2 separate regions of the Homo sapiens genome follow, and region 2 is linked to region 1. The links come from fine-mapping of genetic effects on gene expression. A gene starts in region 1. The other region holds a variant in brackets. All regions are shown on one strand. Distances are from middle to middle. Region 1 holds the start of EDAR (ectodysplasin A receptor). Region 2 overlaps EDAR (ectodysplasin A receptor).

The links. PIP is the estimated chance that this variant, and not a neighbour inherited with it, causes the effect.
Region 2: its variant is the best candidate, but not a certain one, in a credible set for the expression of EDAR in whole blood (TOPMed, PIP 0.77).

The regions. Positions count from the first base shown.
Region 1 is chr2:108,987,947-108,990,853 of GRCh38, forward strand. EDAR (ectodysplasin A receptor) reads right to left here and starts at 1,274. Exons shown (of 12, transcript NM_022336.4): 1 at 1,014-1,274. It also overlaps a transcript of RANBP2 not described here. RefSeq lists an enhancer at 1-248.
Region 2 is chr2:108,964,345-108,967,251 of GRCh38, forward strand. The region is part of intron 1 of EDAR (ectodysplasin A receptor); the gene reads right to left. It also overlaps a transcript of RANBP2 not described here. Among named protein-coding and RNA genes, the nearest start is that of EDAR, 23 kb to the right of the region's middle. The variant A/G (reference allele first, on the strand shown) is at 1,092.

The DNA of each region.
Region 1 (2,907 bases):
TCAGTCTATTATGGCTCTTCACTTCTTTGTTACACTTTCACTCTTGCTTAGAAAGTGTCTCAAAAATGCCACTTGAGAGCCACAGAGCAGTGGCCTGGGGACTGGGGAAGAGGACGGTGGTGCTCCTGTCTCTCCGTACGTCTCCTCACATGCGTGTACCCCTGGCTGTGTGGGATTGCCCACTGACCGGCATCTGCCCTGCTTGTTGATTTTAACTGTCCCTCTTGTTGCTGACCCAGCACAACATGGGCAGGGAAACCCAGTGGGAACCTCGCCTGCTGACCTCCCTGCCCAGCCACCCGCTTCTCCCTGAGCTGACATCTCAAAGCTTGGCTGCTGCAGGAGGCTGGGAATCAGAGCCGACTGAATCAGAGCCGACTCCTGTCTAGGAGCCCAACCCACCCCACGGTCTGTCAGAGTGTTGAGAGGAACCTCTTGGCTGGAAATGAAAACCTCAATCATCACAAATAGGTACCCACTCCCCTCCTTCTCTCCCTCTCCCCGCTCCCCCGCCACCAACACAGAGGCCAGGATATGGGGGGTCTCAGACACGACTGGAAACCCCACTTGGAAGGTCTCTTAGGTCACAGCGGGTACGCAGAGTTGGAGGCAGGTACAGAGCCCAGCTAGAGTCCCTGCCGCGCCTGCCTTCCCCAGTGAGCCGGGCACAGGGGCAAACCTGAGAAACATACTTTTCACGCTCCCTGGAGGAACCCGTTGCTTCAGTAGCCCAAATCTTAAAGCCTGTGAAGCACACACAGAATTTGTCTCCCTAACCAAATGTGCAACCAACAGCAAAACAGGGTTTCTGATGTTTTTCTAAAACAAAGGAACAATCTCAGGTCTTAGAACTGGTAGCGCAGACATACTGCAATCGGTAAAGCTTGTTCAAACGCAACCCAAAAATGACATGCATTTCAAAAATGCACCCAGCCTCTCTCCCAGCCCATGACACCTCCGTCTCGGCCACAGCTGAAGAGTTTAGAAAACCAGAGGAAAGGACCAGGGCTTACCTGGCTTCTGTTGGAGGTCAGCTTCAGTCCCAGCAGAAGATGGGTCTATGAAGAAAGTCAGGTACCATCCAGTTCTGGGTGACAGGCTTCACAGGTGGCCACCGTGGCAGCCCTCTCAGAAGCAGGTACTCTATGTCCTTAGGGGCCAGCAGGGCTGCCTGGGACCTGGCACACCTCTCTGACACTAGCCCCGCTTCCTTTCCGTTTAAAGGGCTTCCCGGGAACTCTTCCTTGACCGCTCCCTGCCCTGTCTGCAAGTTTGGAAACTCAGTCCTTGCCGAGGGGCTTTCCCTCATTGCAAACTCACCTGCACCATCTAGAGGTCTCTCCCAGCACTGGAGAGGCTGGAGCGGGCACGTTCAGCCCTGCTGCCATAGGTCCCTGGCACACCTGGCTCTCCGGCCGTCTGCCCCTTAAGAGATCTGTTGGAATGCGTAAAAATCATGGATTTTTTTTTTTGCAGGGGTGGGGGCCTTGCTTCTATCAGAGCCTTTAGGCGTGGGAGTGCTAAAAAGCTAAACTAGCATTAAAATATCATTAATCAAAGCTTGTTCGTAGAAGGACCCCCCACTGAGATGGCTACAGGCATGGGTGCCACTGCACGGATTCAGCTTCCAACATGTCTGTTCACATTCTCACCCATCCCCCGCACATCCCTCAGGGTTTGAGCCACCAGGACTGCTCTTCCTTTCCTCTCTCTGGACACCTCACACCACCAGTGTATACCCATGTAACTTCAGATAACCATACACACCCCCCGTATAACTAGGTAATTAGGAAGCCATTTGAAACATCAACATTTTGAAAGGACATACCTTTCAGTATTGGGCAATTATTTCTCAAAAAGTAAATGATTGGGGGGGGGAAAACAGCCTTAAAATAATGTCATTCTCTTGTCATTTTCTCCCTCATTCACACCTACACAGATAAATACAGGAACAGAGCAGCTCCTCCAGGCTAGATTTCTGTGTTCTCCTTTTCCATCTTGTCCCCTCTGCCTTGGAAACCTACAAGGTAACTCACACATGAGAAAGTAAGAGCTTAAGAAAGAAACAGTCTGGGCTCCGTGGCTCACACCTGTAACCCCAGCACTTTGGAGGCTGAGGCGGGCAGATCACTTGAGGTCAGGAGTTTGGGATCAGCCTGGCCAACATGGTGAAACTCCGTCCCTACTAAAAATACAAAAATTAGGCCGGGCGCGGTGGCTCACGCCTGTAATCCCAGCACTTTGGGAGGCCGAGGCGGGTGGATCATGAGGTCAGGAGATCGAGACCATCCTGGCTAACAAGGTGAAACCCCGTCTCTACTAAAAATACAAAAAATTAGCCGGGCGTGGTGGCGGGCGCCTGTAGTCCCAGCTACTCGGGAGGCTGAGGCAGGAGAATGGCGTGAACCCGGGAAGCGGAGCTTGCAGTGAGCCGAGATTGCGCCACTGCAGTCCGCAGTCCGGCCTGGGTGACAGAGCGAGACTCCGTCTCAAAAAAAAAAAAAAAAAAAAATATACAAAAATTAGCCGGTGGTGGCATGTGTGGAGGCTAAAGCAGGAGAATTGTTCGAACCCAGGAGATGGAAGTTGCAGTGAGCCGAGATTGTGCCACTGCACTCCAGCCTGGGCAACAGAGCGAGAATCTGTCTCAAAACAGAAAAGAAAAGAAAAGAAAAAAGCAGACAGAAATGTATGGGGCTGGGGCAAGGACCTAGACTGTAAAGGACTAATTCTGCCTCCACAGAGATTAAGCTGAACCAGAGTTACTTAGCTGACTTGATCCTTGTGGATGATTAATCTAGATAATATAAGCTCCCAAACAAGAATTTTAACTTGAATTTTCAGGTTTGGTTGTCTACCCTGCTCATGCCGAGTTCAGACTGAGGGTCTGTGATAAATTAAAGTCAC
Region 2 (2,907 bases), 24 kb before region 1:
AGTCTCTGCCACATGATGCCACGGCTCCAAAGCAGTCCCACTAACAGGGAACTGTGACGAAAAGGGATCAGGTCATGGAGCTGTTCATCTTTCCCTAAACTGAAGAGGAAACCCAAAATATGAGAAATAAAAGTCCCTACTCTAAGAGGAAATCAGGTACTTTGGGGGAAAAAAACCCCAACAAACTCCAAAAGCCCAACCAAACCACAGTCACCAGTGACTGAAATGAGGATAATCTTTTAACAACAAAGGGCAGCTGTTTAAAGAACTAGGTTTCTCTGAGCAAATGGAGCAGCAAATAGCACTCCAATTCCAGAAAGAAGAAGTGCTGAAGGCGTGTCCACAGGAGAGCATCCCAGTGCTGGAATCCACACTCTCCGTTACGCCACACTCAGTGCTCACTAAGTGACAGCAGGCAGCAGCCCTTGGCTTGCTTCTACCCAGAGAGCTGAGGTTCCTAATCAGAAGACCTTCCAGAGAGCCACAGACCCCAAATGTTTGGAAATAATTCCACAAACTGTGTAGCATGACAAAAACATACTTAATAACAGCACGTCTGGAATAAGGAACAGTTCATTCATTCTAATTAAATCCTATAAAGTTCAGCTTAACATTTAAATTTTTTTTAATGATCTAAGACTCTCTTCAATAGCACAACCTGCCTCTTTTACATGAACATTCTAAAAACTTACTTTAATATTCCTCCAAACATTTTTTAACTATGCCACCCACTTAGAAAAGTGTGTGTGCACGCAAGCATGTGTGTGTCTGTGTGTGTGTGTGAAGGGTACTGGTATTTATTTTTTGAGTGTCCAAAGTGTCATGATTATATCTTTTAATGACAACAAATGGGCCAGGCGCGGTGGCTCACGACTGTAATCCCAGCACTTTGGGAGGCCGAGGCAGGCGGATCATGAGGTCAGGAGATCGAGACCATCCTGGCTAACATGGTGAAACCCCATCTCTACTAAAAATACAAAAACAAAATTAGCTGGGCGTGGTGGTGGGTGCCTGTAGTCCCAGCTACTCGGGAGGCTGAGGCAGGAGAATGGCATGAACCCGGGAGGCCGAGGTCACGCCACTGCACTCCA[A/G]CCTGGGAGACAGAGCGAGATTTCGTCTCAAAAAAAAAAAAAAAGATAATAAATGACCCAGTTGTTCCCAGATACAGGTCTTTTGGGGAGAGAAAAACATTACAGACAGGAAGATCCTTAGAAGGTTTTTACCCCATCAGGATTTTCTCCTCCTGGGCTCTACTGGCTTTGGGTCTTTTCCTCTTACCTTTGGGTGTCTGTATGCCTCCTTCCTTCTCATTTGGGTGACTGCTGCAGTGGGAGAGCTGGGCACCTTCCCTGGGTGTGTAGTAATTGGGGTTTGATGTAGGAGAGGTGTGACTGCTCTGTGCATTGATGTGGTGGTGGGGGGCTGGGGTTTTAGCACATCACAGGAAATTCAAGATGGGCCTTTTGATGTGCAGCACCCTCTCCTCCCCTCCTGCATCATGTACTCTCCCTCCACCTTTCCCTTCTGTGCTCCCCCCTCTCCCCCCAGGCAAAGAAATATTTCCTGAAAACTGGAAAAACCAGGTACTATCAACGTCAAATCAGTGCCAATTAAATTCGGTTATAAAATTCAGGCCTTGTCCCTCATCTTTGAGTGACACCTTCCCTTTTACAACTGGGGCTGTTAATACCACAATTAAAACATTCAATATCACCATATCCTTGGATCTAAAGCAGTTTATAGCCTTGGAGTTCTGTTAAGAAAGTCATTAACACCTCAAGGTGTTTTGATAAGACCAACTTTGAAGCAAGCCTCTCCTCCTGGTCTTTTATTGCCCCTGTCATCTTAAGTATCAAATTTCAAGAATGCAAAGACCTGTCTGCCTTGCATGTTGTTGCCTACTCAAGTTCCGTCTTTGTCATTTCTATTATCAATATTTTAAAGTCAGATGATCTTTGCAATTAACACATGAACTTTGGGTGAAGGGTTTAGATTTACTATGCTGAGACTGGCATTAAGTCCCTTCAAAGCCTTAAGAAATGCAGTGGCATTGGAGGCCAGCCGCAGGCAGAGCTCCTCTGGAGTGACTCCTCACAGGGCACAGGAAGGCCTATGCCTCATCTCGCGGGCCCCGGTGCAGTTATGTGGGGTCAGAGCCTGTGGTCTCAGCCATACCCTGTGCTCTTTCAACCTGAAGACTATGAGGAAGAGGTCATCTTCTGTCTGGACAATAGTCATCAGAGAGTTCTACGGTGCCCAAGTGCATTCAAATAGTAAGGAAACCCTACTGTCTTCAGGAACACTACTGTGTTTGGCTATAGGGGTTCTGAGAAAATGAGCTTCAGCTGTGTTGGCTCTGCCTGTAGAGAAGGGCTTCCCAAGCTACTGAGCCCACATGGCCTGCTGGCAGAGGCCAAGTGCCAGCCCTGGAAGGGAGCACAGTGGAGGGAGGATTGATTGCCTGGGGACCACTATTCTTGGCTAAACTGCTGAGTAGGACAAACAACTCCACTAACATGATGAAGTGAAAGGGAGACAGAGAGGGACCCTCTTTACTGGGGTTTGTCCCAAAGACCAGCCAATTGTGCATGGGTTTGTTTGTTTGTTTGAGATGGAGTCTCACTCTGTTGCCCAGGCTGGAGTGCTGTGGCACAGTCTTGGCCCACTGAAACCTCTGCTTCCCAGGTTCAAGCAATTCTTCTGCCTCAGCCTCCCAAGTAGCTGGGATTACAGGCACCCGCTACCATGCCAGGCTAATTTTTGTATTTTTAGTAGAGACGGAGTTTTGTCATGTTGGTTAGGCTGGTTTTGAACTCCTGCCCTCAACTGATCCACCTGCCTTGGCCTCCCAAAGTGCTCAGATTACAGGCATGAGCCACTGCACCCGGCCAAATTATGTTTTTGAGA